Homo sapiens: one gene and its partner. Each later gene encodes a partner of the first gene's protein in a complex. Each region holds a gene or a part of one and is shown in the gene's direction. Other genes may lie near its edges.

The links.
Region 2: the proteins of SERPINA10 (region 1) and PROZ are in contact, whole or in part, in a crystal structure (PDB 3H5C), measured with the Homo sapiens proteins. Residues at the interface, in NP_001094077.1 of Homo sapiens: Arg88, Lys89, Ser91, Met92, His94, Asp95, His257 (codon at 1,760), Asp259 (codon at 1,766), Lys260 (codon at 1,769), Tyr261 (codon at 1,772), Asn282 (codon at 1,835), Phe283 (codon at 1,838), Lys305 (codon at 1,904), Met306 (codon at 1,907), Asp308 (codon at 1,913), His309 (codon at 1,916), Leu310 (codon at 1,919), Ala311 (codon at 1,922), Leu312 (codon at 1,925), Asp314 (codon at 1,931), Tyr315 (codon at 1,934), Leu316 (codon at 1,937); in NP_003882.1 of Homo sapiens: Cys129, Pro131, Cys141, Leu142, Pro143, Ser151, His250, Met251, Arg252, Asp254, Ala257, Glu259, Asn260, Glu284, Lys285, Asp286, Phe287, His290, Leu291, Thr336, Thr337, Arg338, Arg390, Ser392, Leu393, Trp394, Gln397.

Annotation. Positions count from the first base shown.
Region 1 is NC_000014.9:94,283,269-94,290,268, reverse strand, and holds part of SERPINA10 (protein Z-dependent protease inhibitor precursor), read left to right. Parts: coding exon 1-393; intron 394-1,709; coding exon 1,710-1,983; intron 1,984-4,010; coding exon 4,011-4,161; intron 4,162-6,112; coding exon 6,113-6,304; 3' UTR 6,305-7,000. UniProt on the Homo sapiens protein: Inhibits activity of the coagulation protease factor Xa in the presence of PROZ, calcium and phospholipids. Also inhibits factor XIa in the absence of cofactors.
Region 2 is NC_000013.11:113,153,461-113,162,451, forward strand, and holds the start of PROZ (vitamin K-dependent protein Z isoform 2 precursor), read left to right. Parts: upstream 1-5,187; 5' UTR 5,188-5,200; coding exon 5,201-5,270; intron 5,271-5,738; coding exon of another isoform or gene 5,739-5,804; intron 5,805-6,553; coding exon 6,554-6,717; intron 6,718-7,487; coding exon 7,488-7,512; intron 7,513-8,991. Other genes in the region: F10-AS2 (WAS/WASL-interacting protein family member 2-like), read right to left, coding at 1-310, 454-526. UniProt on the Homo sapiens protein: Appears to assist hemostasis by binding thrombin and promoting its association with phospholipid vesicles. Inhibits activity of the coagulation protease factor Xa in the presence of SERPINA10, calcium and phospholipids.

The DNA of each region.
Region 1 (7,000 bases):
TGACAGGCTTGATGCTGGGGGCCACAGGGCCGACTGAAACCCAGATCAAGAGAGGGCTCCACTTGCAGGCCCTGAAGCCCACCAAGCCCGGGCTCCTGCCTTCCCTCTTTAAGGGACTCAGAGAGACCCTCTCCCGCAACCTGGAACTGGGCCTCACACAGGGGAGTTTTGCCTTCATCCACAAGGATTTTGATGTCAAAGAGACTTTCTTCAATTTATCCAAGAGGTATTTTGATACAGAGTGCGTGCCTATGAATTTTCGCAATGCCTCACAGGCCAAAAGGCTCATGAATCATTACATTAACAAAGAGACTCGGGGGAAAATTCCCAAACTGTTTGATGAGATTAATCCTGAAACCAAATTAATTCTTGTGGATTACATCTTGTTCAAAGGTACTTTGATAATGTTCTGCTCTCCCAAGGCCACAGGGCCCTACGATTGTCTCTCCCTTTCCTTTCGTTAGGCCAGCATATGATTAACGCTACGTGATTTTCTATGAATGTGTTTTCACGTTTCAAAAACAGATTGATACACATATTGAACAGTGCCAGACGCTGTCATTTGAGGCCCTTCCCTGGTATCCTATGTGCTTGTAGTCCTTATTATTTTCAGAGCACTCTACATAGCTCCCCTCTGACACTTAGAAGCATAGGGTCTTTCCAAAAAACAGGGGGCTGGGGGATTATCTGGGGGATTTAGGATTGCATCATTGCTCCTTCATTTTTACTTTTTGACCAACTCTCTGCCCTTAGATTCCTATTATAGAAAATAGGGACACTCCACCTACTACAGTGTTAGAGGCTAAATGAGACAATGAATGTAAAGTGCCCAGATGGGCTTGGCACATAGCAGACACTGAGTATCTATTGTTTACTTGTTCTTCCAAACTGCCAATCAGCAGGTAGAGCAGGAGTTGTCTCCTTTCTAAAGATGAAACCAGCTCAGAGACGTTAGCTTGATCAAGGTCACACAGTAAGTGGCAGAGGCAAAACCCAAACAAGGGCCTCCTGACCCCCTGATCCTAGGTTCTGTCCAGCCCTGCCTCCCTAATGGGGCACTGGACGTGGGTTGGATGCCACTTTCGCAGAGCTGGCACCAGACTTACAAAGCCCCGGCAGGGGAAGCCACTTTACAACCAGCCAGGCCACACCCCCAGGGCAGACGTTTATGTAGAGAGTAATGTACCTGCCTGCTAGTAGCCTCTGCATTGTGGGGCCTTCTCTCAGAACCACACTAAACAGTGGGTGGGTGAGAAGTGTCACTCCTGCCACCTTGGACTCTGCATGTGCTTGTGCCTGGTGTGAATGAGACAAAGTGGCAGTCAGAGGTGCCAGGCAAAGGCTTTTCTCTAAGCTGGAGCCAACTATGAGGGAACGACTGTGAATTCCGTTCAGGTCCAGGACAATGAGAGGAGCCAGGGATTGTTAGGAAACATTTCCCTGCTTTCGTGTGCGATTCCCAATAGGGCCTGCGAGTGGAGCTGCATTTTGCTAGCTGGGCTAGAGGACGGGGAAAATTTTGGGGAAATTTATTTTGCCTGCCTGAGCTGTGGAAAAGCCAACCCAATTAGGGAACGCCTTTCCTAGTTGGAACGAGAAGACGAGAAGTGAGAGAAGTGAGATAGAAGGCTCCCTCTCTATTATTTGAGCAAGAACAATGCTTTTCAAAGAGGGAATTTCTGCAATGAGTTCTTCTCTTACTTGTTCAGGGAAATGGTTGACCCCATTTGACCCTGTCTTCACCGAAGTCGACACTTTCCACCTGGACAAGTACAAGACCATTAAGGTGCCCATGATGTACGGTGCAGGCAAGTTTGCCTCCACCTTTGACAAGAATTTTCGTTGTCATGTCCTCAAACTGCCCTACCAAGGAAATGCCACCATGCTGGTGGTCCTCATGGAGAAAATGGGTGACCACCTCGCCCTTGAAGACTACCTGACCACAGACTTGGTGGAGACATGGCTCAGAAACATGAAAACCAGGTACAACTCTTGCCCACACCCTATACAAACTCTACCTTTCTGTACTGGCAAACGCTCAGCACAATTTCATTGAATGCACCGTGATTTAATGTCTCCTCCAGTGAGCTATAAGTTTCCTGAAGGCAGGGCAGCATTTGTCTTTTTTTCCACTCTATCCCCAGCATCTGTCACAGGGTGCCTGGCTGATTCATTCATTGAGTCCATCAGTATTTTACGTTCTGCGACTGTGATAAATATATGATGCCAGGGATCCATCAGCAAACAAAACAGGCAAAATTAGTCTGCCCTCATGCAGCTTACATTCTATTGAAGGAAGACAAAGAGTAAATTAAAAATAGGTAATAATGCAGGGAAGGGGACAAGAAGCATCATCAGGATGCAGATGGAGGTTAGACAAGGCCTCTCCAAGAAGGTAACAGTAAGCAAACATCTGAAGATGAAGGATAAACCATGTGGATATATTCGGGGAGAGAAGTGTTATGTTACAGGCAGAAGTGTACAAGTTCTGGGATGGGAGTGTACCTGGTGGGTTTGAAGAACATCAAGGAGACAAGTGTGGCTTCAGCAGTTGGAGATAAAATCAGAGAGGAAACAGGGGCCCAGTCCCCAGAAAAGACTTGGGCTTTCCTGAGAGAGGCAGGAAGCCACTGGATGGTTCTGAGTAGAGGAGCAACCTGATTTTGACTTCTGTTTTTAAAGGATCACATAAGCTCCTGTGTTGAGAAAAGACACTAGGGGGTAAGGATGGAAGCAAGGGAGAGTGGTTAGAAAGTTACTAGCAATCCAGGTAGAGATGCTGCTACCTGGACTGCGGTGGTGGTAGTGGAAGTGGTGAGAAGTGGCTGGATTCTGGATCTATTAGGAAGTGCAGGATCTGCTAATCGATTGGATGTGGGTGAGAGAGGTGTCAAAGGTGATCACAAAGTTTTTGGCCTTAGCAACTGGAAAGACGGATTTGCCATTTACTGAAAGGGGGAGGAACAGGTCTGGGGTAAGTGCAGAAGTTCAGTCTTAAACACTTGGATCAGAAATATCTATTAGACATCCAAGTTGAGATGTCAAGACGACAGGTGGATCTGGAGTCTAGGGTGAGGTCCAGGCCGGAGATATAAATTCGGTCATCAACACAGAACTAGAATCTAGACACATGACAGGGTTGGGGTCTGTAAATATAGAGGAGAGGAAAAGAAAGCACAGAGTGGGCACTGAAATGTCTGCCCAATAAATTAATCCACCTATTGGAGTACAAGGAAAATGGCTGCAATACGAATTCCATGGCTATGGCTTCTGAATCCTGTGACTCAGATTTTGGCAGACAAGTGCAGCTAAAGGTCCCCAGGGTTAGTTTTATCTTCATTATTCTTCTTTCATTTTTCTTCATATCTTTAGCACCTAACAATGAACCCCAAACATCATAAGCCCTCAAGTAATGTTTGCTGAATGAATAACTTTTTAAATTAATCTTCAAGACACGTCATGTCCTCAATTATTTTTAAATAAATAAAAAAATTTTATTTTGAGCCACAGAACTCATCTTTTCAAGCAACATATTTTCAAAGGAGGACTCCAGTATACAAAATAGATGGTATCAGAGCTTCTCTGGCTAAAGACGGGTAGGGGTTGAAAGTTTTCTTTGCTCCCCTCCCCATCCATCCCCAGACTCCTCGGGTCTGCAGAATCCAGGAGCTGAAAACAGCCATCATCCAGGAGGCTGCAGGACTGCTGAAAGCAGCTGTTAACTCAGGTTTTTTTTAAAATATAGGGAAATGAACACATAAGTACTTTGCTAAAGAAAACGTGAGTCACTGGCTGAGGAATAAAACTCATTCACTGAAGCTGAAGTACTATTTGATAAGCTAGAAATATTTTCCCTGAGTAGACCACTGTAAAAGAATGGCATGAACTACATAGTCAACTGAAAGACTCATTAATGGAAATAATCTTAAAGAACAAAAATTGTGACCTTTTTGGTGTCCACAGACTAGGGCTTTGTCTACATTTCACCATCATCTGTTCTTGTACCACAGAAACATGGAAGTTTTCTTTCCGAAGTTCAAGCTAGATCAGAAGTATGAGATGCATGAGCTGCTTAGGCAGATGGGAATCAGAAGAATCTTCTCACCCTTTGCTGACCTTAGTGAACTCTCAGCTACTGGAAGAAATCTCCAAGTATCCAGGGTAAGTCAGGATCTTTCATCAGAGCCCAACCTCAGCATGAAATGTCACCAAAACAAATGCTTTTACAAACCATTTAACTTTGATAAAATACCTAATTGTAGTGGAAAATTAGATTTAAGTCCCAAATACTTGAAATAGCACCCAGGTTGGATGTTTTAAGAATTTCAAGCAACTTCATTAAAATAACTTTTCAACTAATTTATTTTAAGCAGACCTCTCCCCCTCTGCTTAAAGTGCTCAGGGAGAAATTTGACCCTGAAATAGAACTGGTTTACAGAGGCATCATCATTTATGTTGAATACAACTTGAATAGTTCATGAAATTACACCACCTTTACAATGAAACAAACCCCTAGACATCATCTAGCCCAACTTCTCCCTCCTTGTGGAAATCCCCTCCATAGCCCTACGAAATAGCCCTCCAACTTCTCTTCCTCTTCATGCTTCCAGTGACATCAAACTCACCATTTCTTTGAAGAGCTGCCCAATCCACAAATAGCTAAAATTGTTATATGTATATATATATATGTGTGTATATATATGTATATATGTATGTGTGTATAAATGTATATGTGTGTATATGTGTGTGTGTATATATATATACACACACATATATATATATATGGAGAGAGACATACATATATATATGGAGAGAGAGAGAGAGAGAGTCCTGTAACTTCTGATTCATACTTTTTGGTCCTAGTTCTATCTCTAAAACTTCTAAGAACAAGTTTAGTCACCATCCACATAGAATCCCTTCAGTTACTCAGTGTTTCTCAGTGGAAGGGTTCTTGGTTTTGAGGGGAACTGCTTGTTGTCCAGAGCAGTTGTGCATGTTGCAGGGAACTGGTTAGCATTGCTGGCCCATGTTCACTAATGCCAGTAGGAAACTCCAGTCATCACTATAAAAATGCTCCCACACATTTCCAAATGGCAGCTACATCTCTCTACATTCTTCCTTAGCTGTGTGGTTTAATATTTTCTTATACAATTGCAATTTTCAATTCCAAGAGAGACTAAAAATGGCATCCACTTAAGTAGGACACAGTAGGGTAACTGTGGCCTGGAATCAGGTCTTACAACCTCAAGAGAGGTAAGACAATTAAATAAAACAATCCGTCAGACCAGCACCTGAAAGTGTTTCTGCTATGAACACATGAAAAACTGAAATGCGCTGCTGCTTTATGAAGGGTCATCATGAAATTTAAACTGTAAATGATTAAATATTCTCCCTCTGTTTGCTCTGGGGAATTAATTTTCCTCTAGGAAATCAGGGAATTTCCTGGAGTGAAAATCAGTGTAATTACATGTTATGTTTTCATTATCTCTTATAACACAGTAATTATATAGGTACATCACTCATATCACATCTTGTTTCTGTAAAAAAGGGCCTCCCAAACATAGCAAGCAGCCACAGTATAGGCAGCCAGAATTCAGGAAGGCTCCAGGGACCCCTGGGCTTGGCCCAGAAAAATGCCTCAGAGTAGTACCAGGTGCTGGGAAGCTGCTACAGAAGACTAGCCATTCCCTGCCTCCACCTTGCCTGCCAAAAGGAAAGTCAGAGGACTCAAGGGATCCAGGGATCAAGGGATCCAGGCAGCTTGAAAACCTTTTAGGAGCACCAGCTCAGCTCAAGAATTAGTAGCATAAATTACATGCTCAATAAAGATTTGATGCATGAGTGCATCCTGAGTCCATGCCCGGAATGTGTTTCACATATTCCACAATACTTCACATTGGGTTCCTGAGGTCTCCTGGTATTGTTTAAGACTCCTGTGGCAGTCCCTGGTGCAACCCCAGACCACTCCTCTTAACGTAGATGGGCCTGCTCCACTAAATCCCAGGAGCATGACCCCATGGGTAGGACCACTGTGAAGAATTTCAAGGGGCTCATTTAATTCCTCCTTTGCACTGCCACACAAATGGTTTTTCACATTATTTCCTTTTTCCAGGTTTTACAAAGAACAGTGATTGAAGTTGATGAAAGGGGCACTGAGGCAGTGGCAGGAATCTTGTCAGAAATTACTGCTTATTCCATGCCTCCTGTCATCAAAGTGGACCGGCCATTTCATTTCATGATCTATGAAGAAACCTCTGGAATGCTTCTGTTTCTGGGCAGGGTGGTGAATCCGACTCTCCTATAATTCAGGACACGCATAAGCACTTCGTGCTGTAGTAGATGCTGAATCTGAGGTATCAAACACACACAGGATACCAGCAATGGATGGCAGGGGAGAGTGTTCCTTTTGTTCTTAACTAGTTTAGGGTGTTCTCAAATAAATACAGTAGTCCCCACTTATCTGAGGGGGATACATTCAAAGACCCCCAGCAGATGCCTGAAACGGTGGACAGTGCTGAACCTTATATATATTTTTTCCTACACATACATACCTATGATAAAGTTTAATTTATAAATTAGGCACAGTAAGAGATTAACAATAATAACAACATTAAGTAAAATGAGTTACTTGAATGCAAGCACTGCAATACCATAACAGTCAAACTGATTATAGAGAAGGCTACTAAGTGACTCATGGGCGAGGAGCATAGACAGTGTGGAGACATTGGGCAAGGGGAGAATTCACATCCTGGGTGGGACAGAGCAGGACAATGCAAGATTCCATCCCACTACTCAGAATGGCATGCTGCTTAAGACTTTTAGATTGTTTATTTCTGGAATTTTTCATTTAATGTTTTTGGACCATGGTTGACCATGGTTAACTGAGACTGCAGAAAGCAAAACCATGGATAAGGGAGGACTACTACAAAAGCATTAAATTGATACATATTTTTTAAGATGTTTGTGCAATCTGTCTGGTATTTTAAGCTTGTTTCTAAGA
Region 2 (8,991 bases), on another chromosome or scaffold:
GGGTCGAGGCTCACAGACTGCGCTGACCCCAGCAGGCACAGCTGGGTCCAGGGACTCGGGAACTCGCAGCCTGACGCGGGCCGGACCCCCGGGGTGGGTGCTGAGGGCCTCGGATGCCCTCCCTGGCTGGACGTTGTGGCTGTGCTGATACTGAGCGGTAACCCTAGGAAGGAGAGTCCCCTGGGCTCAGCTACCCGGGACAAGGTCAACAGGGACACCGGCCCCAGTTCCAGGAGAAAAACAAGCACGGCCAGCGGCGAGTGTGGGCGACAGCAGCTCAGGGAGAAGCAGATTATCAACAGCGAATTCACTCAGGGTCAGCCAACTGTACGCTTAAAAAAAGATTCCTGCGGTAAACTGTATGTCTATTTTACCACAATAAAAAACTTATTGTTTTTAATTACCAATGACTTCTAAAAAATGTTTTTAAAACCCAGATCACAAATCCTGAACATAGGGCCTGAAAGGCGAATTCAGCCACCACGGAGGACTCCCGCACCGTGGAGCCGGGACGCAGGGACTCCATGCTGCGCGGAGGGCAGGGGCACGTGACGCAGGGCGTGGGGGAGGCGGGGCGTGGAGGAGGCGGGGCGCGGGGGGCGGGGCGTGGGGGAGGCGGGGCGTGGGGGCGGGGCGTGGGGGGCGGGGCGTGGGGGAGGGCAGGGGCACGTGACGCAGGGCGTGGGGGAGGCGGGGCGCGGGGGAGGCGGGGCGCGGGGGAGGAGGGGCGTGGGGGGGCGGGCCGTGGGGGAGGAGGGGCGTGGGGGGGCGGGCCGTGGGGGAGGAGGGGCGTGGGGGGCGGGGCGTCGGGGAGGGCAGGGGCACGTGACGCAGGGCGCGGGGGAGGCGGGGCGCGGGGGAGGCGGGGCGCGGGGGAGGCGGGGCGCGGGGGAGGCGGGGCGCGGGGGAGGCGGGGCGCGGGGGAGGCGGGGCGCGGGGGAGGAGGAGGAAGGGTTCTGAGTGGACGCGGGGACTCCATGCCACGCGGAGGGCAGCCGCTCATGAGGCGGGGTGTGGGGGAGGAGGAGGAAGGGTTCTGGAGTGGCTTTTCTACTCCAGAAGTCTCCCCGATCCTGAAAGAAAATCTAGACAGGTGGAAAAAAGAGAAACATGTCCAGATAGTGTCTTCCACATTAATGGTCTCCCAAGCTCTGAGGAAGCCCAATGAGTTGAACAGTTTCTCATAAGCTTGCGGGTCCCTGTCAGTGCTTCTGAGATGCTAAAAACGCCAGGCTGTGGGCTGCGTCACCATGTGTCTCCTCTTTAATTTCTTCAGGAGCTCCAGGTGATAAGCTGCCACCTCCATCCACAATGTGGACATCAGAGGATGCAGCATGCTGTGGTTTGAATGTGTCCCTATAGTGCACGTGTTGGAAACTTAATCCCAAGGCAACAGTGTTGAGAGGTGGGACCTTTAAGACGCATTCATTGTCAGAGCCCACGTGAATGAATTGATACCACTATTGTAGGAGTGGGTTCGTTATTTTGGAATAAAAGGATGAGTTTGGCCCCCTTCCTCTCTCCCCTTTCTCTCTCTCTCTCTCTCTCTCTCTCTCTCTCTCACGCGCATCCACCTTCCACCATGGGATGACGCAGCAAGAAGGCCCTCGCCAGATGGGGGCCCCTGGACCTTTGATGTCCCAGCCTCCAGAACTGTAAGAAATAAATTTCTGTTCTTTATAAATTACCCAGTCTCAGATATCCTGTTACAGCACCACAAAGTGGACTAGACCACACTCTACTCTGTGAATCTAAGACGCACCATTATTGATGAACCTGAAAGAAAGAGCATATACCCAAATTAGCTGTGGGTCAGCTCAGCCTGGAGGCAAGAGGGGGAAGCTCAGATAATCTAAACCACAGGCCAGCCAGGAACCAGCTTTGCAATACATTTACACTATTCACATGGGCTCCCAAAACTCACACAAAAAAATGTATTTAAAGGGATTGCAAAGTGGCAGTGCCCCCAGGGGGCAACATAAAGCACAACCCCTTTCAGGAAGAACTCGGCCTTGTCCAGGCTGACATTAGAACATTGGCTGTAGGGAACAGGCCAATTCAGAGATGTTGAAATCTAAAACATAGGTCCCAGAGTTGATTGAACAGGTATTTAAATAGGGACTGCGGCAAGATCTAAGTATTCAATGACCAGGTTCTCCATAGGCTGCTCATTTCAGGTTCCACACAAAGTTGTGGGGTCAGTTGATTTAAGCTGGGGACCCCCACAGAGGACACCCCAACATCTGAAGGACACGACAAAGACCCCAAAGGAAGGAAGATTCTCCTCAGGTATACAGAAGGAAAGTAAACCAGTCAATGGAAAAAGTGTCCCAATGTTGGTTGGTTTGTTTTTCAGAACAGAAGAGGGTGACAGAAGAACGATTATTCATATGAGAGATGAGGAAGATGAGTAGAACGAGGTGAATCTTAATGTTTGGACAATTTATTATTGTAGAATTTTTGGTCCAAAGGTGGTATCTTTGAGAAGGCAGATGAGAAAATTAAATCACCACATACAACACGGTCAGTCCACGTACAACACAGTCAATCACAGCTGTGGCCTCGATGTTGATGCCTTCCTGTATTAGTCTGTTCTCATGTCACTGTGAAGAAATACTTGAGACTAGGTAATTTATAAAGAAAAGCGGTTTAATGAACTCACAGTTCCACATGGCTGGGGAGGCCTCAGGAAACATAATCATGGCAAGCAGGCACCTCTTCACAGGGTGGCAGGAGAGAGAAAATGTGTGTCAATCACAGGGGGAAGCCCCTTATAAAATCATTAGCTCTTGTGAGAATGCACTCACTATCACAAGAACCACCTCCATGATTCAATCACCTCCACCTGGTCCTGCCCTTGACCTGTGGGGATTATTACAATTCAAGGTGAGATTTGGTTGGGGACACAGAGCCAAACCATCCCCCAAAACTCACGTTGAAACCTAACCCCCTGTGCAATAGTACTAGGAGGTGGGGCCTCTGGGAGGCACTCTGCCTTCATGGATGGATGACTGCCCTCCCAAAAGAGGCTCCAGGGAGCACCCACATTCCTCCCTTCCACCATCCAAGGACACGTCTATGAATCATGGGCCGTCACCAGACACTGAGTCTACTGGAGCCTTGATCTTGGACTTCCCATCCTCCAGAACTGTGAGCACTACGTTTCTGTTTATCGTAAATTACCCACTCTAAGGTGTTTTGTTACAGCAGCCCCAACAGACTAAAATGGTCCATGAGGGAAGAGGTTGTAGCTCAGATACCCATGTCAGGCATATAGGATGTGCTTAATTAACACTTATTGATCGAATGTGTATGTCCCTGTCTGCCTTTCCATTTTTAGGCAGCTATTGATGGTTTTTAAACTATCCAGCAGAAGTATTTTTAATGTAAATTTCCATGTGGGAATACATTTTCACACAAAAAAAGGCACCTTTTCTTAAGTGAAGGCCACGTAGATTGCCAGGCTGGTGCAATTCACCCAAGAGCTATCCTATACAATCAACTTCTGGCTTTCAAATTATTTTAACTCACTCACTAAAGATAAACTTTATTTTCTTTTCCCAGCTTTTTAAAGCAAACTTCACAACTTCAGTGTATTTGCGGGCATGCCCTCTTAATCAAGGGTGTCAGCTTCTTAGTTTTCTTCTGTTCCCACTTTAACAAAATTGTATTTAGAATCCTTTCATTGAGTTTTGCCACCTTTGAGTGTCATTCAATCGAACAATATCTATATGCTGACAATGCTGTCATTTCATCTGTTACCACCTGAATCTCCACTGTGAGTCCCAGCTTCTCGGATGCCCACTCCTGTCTCCACCTGGACATCCCACAGACACCTCAAATTTGCCAAACCTCGCTTCCCTCTGCCCTCCTGGAGCTTGGCCGTCTCAGCACACGCACTGCCATCCTCCCAATCGCTCAGCCCAAACCTTGGAGCCGTGCTGCCCGACACAATTCATCATGAATCCCATCAGCTTTCCCTTCCTGAAGCATCCAGACTGCAAACGTGCTTCCTGCTGCATGGCTGCACCCTCACCCCCTCCTGGACTAGCCGGCAGCCTCCCTTTTGACTTCTCTGGAATGTTCTGTTCTCCACACAGCAGCCCAGTGATCCCTTCAGAGCACAAATCTTTCCATGTCAATTCCTGTTCCCTCCAATATCTTCCCAACACAGTGAAAATGAAACACCAGGTTCTTACCTCAGGCTTCAAGGGCTGATATGGTTTGGCTGTGTCCCCACCGAAATCTTATCTTGAATTGTAATCCCCATAGTCCCCACGTGTCCTGGGAGGGACCCGGTGGGAGGTAATTGAATCATGGGGGTGGTTTCCACCATGCTATTCTTGGGATAGTGAGTGAGTCTCAAGAGATTTGATGGTTTTATAAGGATCTGGCATTTCCCCTGCTTCAGTCATTCTCTCTGCTGCCACCCTGTGAAGAGGTGCCTTCTGCCATAATTATAAGTTTCCTGAGGCCTCCCCAGCCATGTGGAACTGGGAGTCAACTAAACCTCTTTTCTTAAATTACCCAGTCTTGGCTATTTCTTCATAACAGTGTAAGAAGGGACTAATACACAGGGCCTACATCTGAAAGCAGCAAACGACAACCCTGGGGCCAAATCTGGCCCCTTAATAGCTCTTATAAATAAAGCTTTATTGGCACACAGCCAAGTGTTCATTCATGATTGTCTATGCTGCCTCTGCTACAATGGTGCTGAGCTGTAGTGACAGACACTATTTGGCCCTTCCCCGCTTTCTCCCTCCTCCCTCCCTCCCTTCCTTTTCTCCCCTTCCTTCTTTCCATCCTCCTGCTTTCCCTCCCTCACTCCCTCCTGTCTCTTTCCCTCGTTCTTTTCTGTGTATTCCACACACACCTAGAACGTAAGCTGCATGTGACTTTGTCTGTCCCGCCCAGTGCTGTGTCCCCAGGGCCTATCTCACCTCCATTGACCACACACGGGCATGGGTGCCACCTTCCACCTTGCACCTGCTGCCTTTACCTTCTGTTCTCTGTCTCCCTAAATATCTCCCAGGGTCCTCTGAGCCTTCACCGTTCATTTCTCTGCCTGGCCTCAAACAGAAAACGTCAGGAGGGAAGCACACAGCTGCACAGGTCGTGCCCCGAGGCTCCTGCTGCCGGCACCTCCCCCAGCCTGGACTTTGGCTGTGTTTGTAGCCCTGTCCCAGCGCTCCGGGTGGGAATGGCAGGCTGCGTCCCACTGCTCCAGGGCCTGGTCCTGGTCCTCGCCCTCCATCGTGTGGAGCCCTCAGGTAGGCATCTGGCTTACCTGTCTGTTGTGCCTGTGCTGTGTCTTTCTTGACTCGGTCCATGGTGGATTTGTAGATGAGGCTTTTTCCAGGAGCCAGAGGAGCCCTGAGTGCCCAGACTAGTCTTAATTCCCCTGAAAAAGCTGTTTGGATCTTTATCATTTGGTGACAAGTATTTGGGACATGATAGTGTCACTTGGGGTCCTCCCAAGAGATGCCCAAATGGAAAGAAGCCTGTGTGCAGGGGATTCAGCCGGGAAAGGCCGGGGAGAGGGGAGGGGGAAAGGGGGAGGAGTGGGGGGAGGCCTGGGTTGGGCATTGGACGAGGGGAGGGGGTGGGGCAGGCTGAGCCCAGACTGCAATGTGGGCAGAGAGAGCCTTGGCCAGGCCAGCCAGGAATGCCCAGTCTTGAGTCAGGAGACATAGCCAGGGAGCAGCCACCCTGCCTGCCTGCCACCCTTCTACCACCAGCCACTTCACTGAAGGAACGACATGGACTCCATTCTGACTCTGCCTGCACAGGCGTCCAGGAAAGCTGCAAGTCAAAACACCCAGCATCCCCGCTGGCCCCATGGTCTCCCGCTGGCCCCATGGTCTCCCACCCTGAGAGGGTGATCCCCCCGCCCTGCCCTGCCCAGCACTTACCGTAGCCGGACTTAGCTGAGCCCCCCCTGCTGTAACCCTCAGCACCGAGAGAAAAGGAGGGAGGATGGGAAGGGCCTGGGCTTTGACCCTCCCGGAGAGGGAGAGAACATGCTTTGGGACCCTCAGGTGGGAAGAGGCTCCAGAGACCACTGCCGCGGGTCAACTCATTTGCCTTCTCCTCCTGGAAATCGCAGAGCCTGCTGCAATGTATAAGTTTCTTCTTTATGTGTTTTATCAAGATGTTAAATGCTGCGCACAGAGGCAGCACAGGAGCTGATGGCTCTTGGTCCCCAGTTCTCAGTACGGGGACCTTTGACCCCAGCTCAGCCTTCCTTCGCACTCAGACCCAAAACCCAGTTGGAGCCCTCCCTCCTCCACTTTCCTGACTGAGGCCCGTGGCCTCTCTGCAGAACCTTAGTGTATCCGCACTGATCCTGGGGCTGATCCATTCGCCCAGAGGATGAAGTGCTTGCCTACCTCGGGGGAGGGAGTAGCGGGGTGGCCCTGAGGCCCTCGCAGGCTGAGAGCCTGTGGAGACGGACGGGGCTGGGGCTGGCGGCCGGCCGGGGAGGAAGCCAGGCAGCTCTGGAAAGCAGGGCCCTCGGTGCTCCCAGTCACCTGCCTTCTTGTCTCGTCTGTAGTATTTCTCCCGGCCTCCAAAGCAAACGACGTTCTGGTGAGGTGGAAGCGTGCGGGCTCCTATCTTCTGGAAGAACTCTTCGAGGGAAACTTGGAAAAAGAATGTTATGAAGAAATCTGTGTCTATGAAGAAGCAAGAGAAGTGTTTGAAAATGAAGTAGTCACTGTATGTACCCCCACCACAAACCACAGGCCTCCTCATTATTTAGACTTCTGCTGGCCCAGGGAGCATCATTTCTCAGAGATTAAGCTTAATTAATTAGCCTATTTACTTACCGATGAGGTTGACACAATCCCAGTTTTACAGATGAGGAAACAATTTAGAGAATCGACTTAATCCACCTTTCCCTACAGCAGTGAGTGGGGCTGGAAGTCAGCTCAGAGCCCACTGGACTCATTTCTTCAGGTCAGGCAAGGCCCACACACTGATCAGACACCCAGCATACATTTTCTTTCTAGGCTTCAAGTCTGAATAATTCTCCTAATTTTAGATACTCCTACCCCAAACTAAGTGTCCCCACTCCCTACAGAGGTATATATCTTTAAAATTCAACTCGGTTTATAAAAAGCGAAAAGGTGATGTGACTTCTATATCATGTGCTTTTGTGGAGGGTGGCGTGGAGATTGGCCCTAGAAGGGAAGGGCCACGTTAGGGGCTGTGGGTGGTGGGTTTGTGCCATGTCATAGACTCTGGCCTTCCTCAAATAGGTGGTGGTAAGCACATGTTGAGTAATATATCTTACAGATACATTTAGTTACTATACATTTAACATAAACAAATAGGCTGTAAAACAGGAAAATTGTGCATTGTTTCAACCACTATTGTCCTATTAAGTGAATAAAATCAACATTTTCTTACCTTCAAGTTCATCTACAGGAAAGAATATAGAAAAACAAATATCCCATTTGTAACATTTTTATGTTTTAACTCTAAAGGATGAATTCTGGAGACGATATAAGGGTAAGTGGTTTCCTTCGTCTCCTCAGAAGTATTAATTCCTCGGGATGAGGTGCGTGGGTGGGCTTAGGACGCTTCACGACCCCAGCTCAGCGGATGCCAAGCCTCTGGCTCCAGGACCCACGGTGTCTCTCCAGGGAAGGGCAGCTCCGACTCTCCCCAAGGACCAGGTCAGGAAGCCCCCGGGCTCTGCCACCAGGGCCACAGGCAGTGCCTGGTTTGTCTTGCCCAGTGTCTGGGTAGTTTCTTGGCACTCTGGGACATGGGCCACAGGCCAGGAGGGCCCCCCCAGAGCAGCTCCTCCAGCCGCCTGGCTCCTGGGCTCCTGGGAAGCCTCATGCTGCAGCAGGGTCAGAACTCGTCTCAAATTTTGGAAAGTCATGGCCCCGATGGAGACTTTGGTTAGGAGACTCCTCCCAAGGGAGGAGCTCTAGGTGGGCAACTGCAGAAGAGCATGGGACAGAAGTAACACAGATGGAGACCCACGGGGCTGGGGGAGGCCAGGGTAAGGACCCACCTGGGAATGAGTAAGCAAAGAGCTGCAGCCACCACCAGACAAGCACGGGGACAACTGGGCACAGAAGGAAGCGGGAGAGGCAGGGAAGGCCGGAGAAGGGCTGATGGGGCGGGACAGAGGGGACCGCGTGCGGACGAAGAAAGGGCACCCAGCAGAGTGGGAGGCACTGGCAGCCAGGCCTTACATCCGGAGCGGGGAGCGTCCTGGGGGCCAGGCGATGGCATGGGGAGCAGCATGAGCAGGCTCAGTCCCCATTCCTGCCACCCCCTGCCCCCCCGTCCTCCTCCTGCTCAGGTCCCCGTCCCTGCCACCTCCTCACATCCTCCTCCTGCTCAGGTCCCCGTCCCTGCCACGTCCCCCCATCCTCCTCCTGCTCAGGTCCCCGTCCCTGCCACGTCCCCACATCCTCCTCCTGCTCAGGTCCCCGTCCCTGCCACCTCCCCCCATCCTCCTCCTGCTCAGGTCCCCGTCCCTGCCACCTCCCCACATCCTCCTCCTGCTCAGGTCCTCGTCCCTGCCACCTCCTCACATCCTCCTCCTGCTCAGGTCCCCGTCCCTGCCACGTCCCCACATCCTCCTCCTGCTCAGGTCCTCGTCCCTGCCACCTCCCCCCATCCTCCTCCTGCTCAGGTCCCCGTCCCTGCCACGTCCCCACATCCTCCTCCTGCTCAGGTCCCCGTCCCTGCCACGTCCCCACATCCTCCTCCTGCTCAGGTCCCCGTCCCTGCCACGTCCCCCCATCCTCCTCCTGCTCAGGTCCCCGTCCCTGCCACCTCCCCACATCCTCCTCCTGCTCAGGTCCCCGTCCCTGCCACCTCCCCACATCCTCCTCCTGCTCAGGTCCCCGTCCCTGCCACCTCCCCACATCCTCCTCCTGCTCAGGTCCCCGTCCCTGCCACGTCCCCTCATCCTCCTCCTGCTCAGGTCCCCGTCCCTGCCACCTCCCCACATCCTCCTCCTGCTCA